Homo sapiens: one gene and its partner. The protein of the gene in region 2 purifies or fractionates together with the protein of the main gene of each other region. This does not show direct contact. Each region holds a gene or a part of one and is shown on either strand. Other genes may lie near its edges.

Region 1 (3,845 bases), on a different chromosome or scaffold from region 2:
TTCTGATAATTTATAAAGCAGTGAAATACAAATACATTTCTAGAAACTTACTAATGACAGTAAGAAAATGGGTACCAAGAGTTTCAAAATTAAAAATCAAAATCTTTTTAATATTATGTTGAATTAGAACATCTTTTTAAAAGCCAAAAGTAATTGAAAAGAGATTAAATTGGTACACTCAACTCTCTAAACTGTGTGTATATTTTTCTTAAAGTGCATATCTGTGAGCTGACAGTAAAGACAGGCTGGCTGCTTTGTTTGACTATAGTTCTGTTTACCTCATACTGTCAAGAATGGATTTTGACACAGTATTAATATTGCTATTTTTATTGATATAATTAGCACTGCTATAAATAATTTCTTGTGCTGCCATATGTAAGTATATCATTACAATCAGCAGTATTTAGTGCTTTTCTTATATGACACCTTGAAAACAGACTGTTGGCCCAAAGAACAAAAGTGACCTCATGATATGGGAATCACTGAAAAAAACATTGCCCTGTCAATAGAGACTACTGTTTTGTGTATGACTTCACTAAACAAACTAGTTTATATTTGTTTGAAACTAAAGTTTCTCACCAATCTGCTGTTTCAATTTCACATCACACCATATTGTACCTAAAACAGGCAATCTGGATTCCTGTTGCTACTTTTTCTTCCCCCAAACAGCTCAGGAATGGGTTTGAAATACAAGGCTTGAATACATAAAGCAAAATAATTAAGACACCCAAAATTCAGAATGGGTGGGTGAAAACAAGTACACTTGAAACCATTTGTGTAACTACTAGTGGGTGGCCCACTGTGAGTTTTTGATTATATGAAAGCAAAATCAAAACATATTTTATCTTGCCTCTAGATCACATCAGCTGTGACAATAACCTCATCTGGACCTTGAATAGTTTGTTCATAAAACAAAGTAGGGTGACTGACCCAGTGCATATTCAACACAGAGTATGAAGGCCAAAAGAAAATGACAATACCATTCAAAACAAGTTTGTGGAAATTTTAGACTAGTATATTAAAACCTTTCTTTGTCTCTATCACTTGACAGATGGTTAGCCTTCACACAGCCTAGTATCTCTGGCAAAGAAATGACTGTGTCTAGCCAATAACACCCCAAATTTTGACTTAAAATGCACTGTACACATGCTTAGACTTACCTTACAAATATGAATATTAATAAACTTAGTCATGCTTACTTTATTACTATAAAAACTTGATAGATGTCAAGATTTCATCTTCTGCCGTTAAAAATACCTTCTTGAAACTCAACTATCTTAGGTGGATATAAGGTTCCATGAACTCTGCACTTCAGATTTCATTCATTTCACAGGTTGGCTGGTAATCATGCTTAAAAAAATACTTCCAAAATAACACTTCATCCCAAAAATATAAAATTTATAGAAATTTAATTAGCTTGTGTTTCTATGCTATCCATAGGAAAGTTTTGGTAACAAAGTGGCTTAAACAAAATCACCAGGGAACCCTGAATACACTCCATGTCAAGGACCACAGGCAGGACTGGAATTATTTATCCAGTATTGATATGTCTTTATTCAAAAACTGCTCATTTATAAATATATACTCACACACACATGCAAACACACATCGATCAACCATCCTTACCAGAAAACAGGAAATGGTCTTACTTTTTAACATTCAATTAGCCATTCTTCCATTTTGCTCTTTAAAAAAAATTCAACTGAGGCTGGGCACGGTGGCTCACACCTGTAATCCTAGCTCTTTGGGAGGCCAAGGCAGGCAGATCACGAGGTCAGGAGATCAAGACCATCGTGGCCAACATGGTGAAACCCTGTCTCTACTAAAAATAACAAAAAAATTAGTAGGACGTGGCTGTGCGCGCCTGTAGTCCCAGCTACTCAGGAGACTGAGGCAGGAGAATTGCTTGAATCTGGGAGGGGAGGCTGCAGCGGGCCAAGATTGTGCCACTACACTCCAGCCTGGCGACAGAGCAAGACTCCATCAAAAAAAAAAAAAAAAAATTCAACTGAAACAATGTATTCCATTAGTTATAAAGTCTGTTTCCTCCTAAATCTTCCTATTTATAGTTTTCAGATGCTGGCAAGTCCGTATACAAATAGCCAGAGGCAATCACAAACTGCTCTAAAGTGCATTAATATGTACCCTTCCTGGAAGAGGCTGATTATGTTCCAAATTAGCATAAATAGAGATCTAATGTAGGTATAAGCGTGACAAACCCTCCACGGCACAGGATGGGAGGGCTGGAGGAGGGAGGATTGTATTAAAAAAAGTTATTCCACTTAAGAACTAAACTTGTATTTGGCTAACAAAGTAAGACTCACCATGACAGATGGGAAAAAAAATTAAAAAGGAAAAACTGTTATTTGAGAACTATGAACTAGGTTTTGGAAAGGTGAGACACCCACTACTTGAAGTCACAATCTCAGCATTAAATCATATACTCATTTAACCAGGTACCAACTTTCCTTCTATTAGAAACCCAGGATTTTTACACCTACAGACTAAATGATTAAAGTATTGCTAAAATCTTCTGTAATGTTCCTCTTGCATTACAAATAAGTCTATTAAAGCAGAAAAGTGCCAATCAAATGCTTTTGAAAAAATGGTTTAAATAACAAAGCATTTTTTGCAGGTCTCTCCTCTTTAATGTCGCCTATAAACTAATTACAATAAATTTTCACCTTCTCTTGATAAAATCACAACTGAAACTAGGCATGGTGGCATGCACCTTAGTCCCAGCTACTAGGAGGCTGAGGCAGGAGGGCGGATCACTTGAGCCCAGGAGTTAAAGTACAGCCTGGGCAATAAAAGGAGATTCCCATCTCAAAAAACGAAAAAGAAACCCAGAACTGAAAAAGATTTAGGTACTTGATTTTTCAGATATGTTCCTAAAAACAAATCCCAACCAAAAATTAACAGATATTCTAGCTTTTGTTTTACCATACTTTGCTAACGGGATAATACTATGTAGGAATTTTATAGTAACTTTCAAGACACAAGATTTTTTTAATATAAAGCAACGTTTTATTAATTTCAAAGACATTATTAAAATCATGAAAAAAATCCCTATCTGTTAAAATTACCAACTGAAATATATGGAGAAAGTTTCATGACAATAACAAAAGGTACAAATAAGAAATAAACTAAGATCTTTCTTTCCTATCACTGCCAACTGGTAAACACCTTCCTCCTTCTCAAACTTCTGTAGGCTCTTTCAAACTGTAGTTCCTAAGACAAGAAAGCAGCTAGGTTTTAAAGTTTCATTAAAAAATCTCCTCCCCTAACAATCTAAAATGCACAAAGTGTGTGTGACATTAGAATGTAAGCTCCACAAGGGCAGGCAATTTTCTCTCTTGTTCATTATTACACTCCAAGTGTCTAGAACAATATGATAAATTTAACCATCCATTTCAGAAAAATATGATTATTTCAGAGACTAAAGCAAAGCCCATCAATCTCTACTTCCGTATTCCAAATGTTTTTGAAGAAGTCTCTGCTTGCCACTGATTCTGTGAAGTTATTCAAAATAATATGTAATTATTTTATAAATTATAGATCGCAGGAACTTAGCTGTAGCTTTTATTGCCCTTCTAAAACAACCTAATTATTCAGACTGGCCTTTTTTTCTAGAAAGTCCAATTTACCTAATTATTCAGACTAGCCTTTTTACTAGAAAGTCCAATTTGTCTAAAAAGTCTTCTGAAAACTTTCACTAATGCAACAAAAATGATTCGCTTAAAATATTTTTTCCTTAGATTTTCTTCCTATACCAAGTAGTCAAATTCTTATTAACAGGACAACAAGAGGAATTAGATGTTTGCGGGCCTCAAAAACTTTCTGAT
Region 2 (2,513 bases):
ACACTGCCACATACACAAACACACTACATACACCACCACACACCACACAAACACACCACACCCTCCCACACACAAACACATCACACACACCACACACCACACAAACATACCGCACACTACACACGCATCCCACTGTCCATACACACCTCATACACAAACACATACCACACACAAACACACCACATCCCCACATACCCACACACACACTGCACAGCACAAACACACTGCATACTACACACACCCCACACACTGCACAAACATACCACATACATATCCACACAGACAACATACCATATGGTATATTATATACCACATTATATGCCACACATACAGTGGTGTCGTCACGTCACACCCAGGCATCTGGCACCAGTATGGACCAAGAGCTTATTCACATGTCACTCGTGTGGGTGTGTGTGGTGTGGGGTATGTATGTGTGGTATATAGTGTGTAGTGTACATGGTATGTTGTATGTGTGTGCATGTGTGTGTATGTGGTATGTGTGGTGTGTGCAGTGTGTGGTATGTTTGTGTGGTGTGTGGTGCATGTGGTTTGTGTTTGTGTGTATGTGGGGTGTGGTGTGTTTGTGTGTGTGGTATGTGTGTGTATGTGGTGTCTATGTACAGTGTGAAGTGTGTGTGTAGTGTGTGGTATGTATGGTGCATGGTGTATGTGGTGTGTGTTTGGGGGATTGTATTTTGTATGGGGGGTATATGTGTACAGTGTGGCGTGTGTATGTGTGTGTGGTGTGGGGTATGTATATGTGGTATGTAGTGGGTAGTGTGTATGGTATGGTATCTATGTGTATGTGTATGTGGTATGTCTGTGTGTGTGGTATGTTTGTATGGTGTGTGGTGTATGTGGCGTGACTTTGTGTGTGTATGTGGGGGTGTGGTGTGTTTGTGTGGTATGTGTTTGTGTATGTGGTGCGTATGTACAATGTGGGGTGTGTGTGTAGTGTGTGGTATGTTTGTGTGCCATGTGATGTGTGTTTGTGTGTGGTGTAGGTGGTGTGTGTTTGTAAGTGGGGGTGTAGTGTGTTTGTGTGGTGTGTGTGTATGTGGTGTGTATGTACAGTGTGGGGGTGTGTGTGTAGTGTGTGGTATATTTGTGTGGCGCGTGGTGTGTGTTTATGTGTGTAAGTGGGTATGTGGAGTGTTTGTGTGTTTTTGTGTGTGTGTTGTGTGCGTTTATGTGTGTGTTTGTGTGTGTATTGTGTGCATTTGTGTGTGTGTGTGAGTGGTGTATGTGTACTTCCTGCAGTTTCATCATGCGTGTTGTTTCTTGCACCCCCCACTATGATCAAGACACACAATTCTTCCAGCCCCACAAGGTCCCCTCATGCCACACAAGTGACTTCTAAGCGCACTTGTGGGCCAATCAAACTGTGGGTGTGCCAGGCTTGGTGCAGCTCTGGGGCTGCAACCAGCTGTCCCGGGAGCGCCTTGGGGAAAGAACCCGCTCAGGCGCTACCCAGAGCCTGGTTCCCACCTGCAGGGGGAGGAGACACAGGCAGGAGGAAAGTCCAGGTCCTCCAGGAAGCCGGGGTGGGGACCCCAATCCCGCGCCTCCCTCTGTGCCTGCCAAGCTCAAAGAGAAGGTGCTGAGAGGTGGCCGGGGCCAGCGTCTGAGACCCAGGGTGTACAGGGATGTGGTGTCATAAGCCCAAGGTCTTGGGCCACCTCAGTGGGGCCCACAGGGCAGGGGACACGCCACTGGCATCAGCACCTGGTCGGGAGTGTGGCGAACACAGGTGGGCCCCGCGCCGCGCCTCAGGGCCGCTTCTGCCACACACCCAGGCCAGCCTGCAGCAGCCCCCAGGCTGTGTTGCTGTCCTGCCAGGAGACCTGAGCTCTAGCAGGGATCGCTGAAGACTGGCCCTGCGACCTGGGACCTTTACTGCTCACCACAGGGCCTGGCCGTGTAAGTGCTCACTCCCACACCTCTTGCACAAACATGAGAACAGCCAGTTGACCTGCAGAGCTCGCGGGAGGTGAGTGTTCAGCGAGAATTATTGGAGAACTCCCCTGAGCCAAGGGGCAAACCAGCGCAACGAGACCCTCCTCCCGCAGAGCGGCTGAGCGTGGTGGGAGGGGTGGGTGTCAGCCCAGAGGCAGGCATGGGCTCCCCAAGGCGGCCGCCAGGAGAGGGGTCACCGTGAGGATTCTGCCACAGGGAAGGAGGTCCAGGGAGGCCCCAGGCACTGGGGGGAGGATGTGGAAGCTGGAGGGACGGGTGACGTGGTGCTCGGTGACATCCCGTGTGTGTGTCTGTGAGTGTGCCCACTAGTGTGAGAGTGAGTGTGAGTATGAAAGAATGTCCAGAGTGAGTGTGTGTCCATGTGCAAGTTGTGTAAATTGTGTGAGCATGTGTATCGTGTAAGTTGGCCCGTGTGTGTGCCAGTGTGCATGCATGTGTGTGAGCATGTGCATCCATGAGTGGGTCTGTGTGTCCCTGTGGGAGTGTCAGTATGCATGTGTATGTGTGTGTGCGCATCCGTGTGAGTGCATGTGTTT

What was found.
Region 1: the proteins of TWIST2 (region 2) and ZBTB20 purify together in Homo sapiens (affinity purification with mass spectrometry; one large-scale study listed by BioGRID and IntAct). This does not show direct contact.

What each region holds. Positions count from the first base shown.
Region 1 is NC_000003.12:115,140,675-115,144,519, forward strand, and holds part of ZBTB20 (zinc finger and BTB domain-containing protein 20), read right to left. Parts: intron 1-3,845. UniProt on the Homo sapiens protein: May be a transcription factor that may be involved in hematopoiesis, oncogenesis, and immune responses. Plays a role in postnatal myogenesis, may be involved in the regulation of satellite cells self-renewal.
Region 2 is NC_000002.12:238,906,412-238,908,924, reverse strand, and holds part of TWIST2 (twist-related protein 2), read right to left. Parts: intron 1-2,513. UniProt on the Homo sapiens protein: Binds to the E-box consensus sequence 5'-CANNTG-3' as a heterodimer and inhibits transcriptional activation by MYOD1, MYOG, MEF2A and MEF2C. Also represses expression of pro-inflammatory cytokines such as TNFA and IL1B.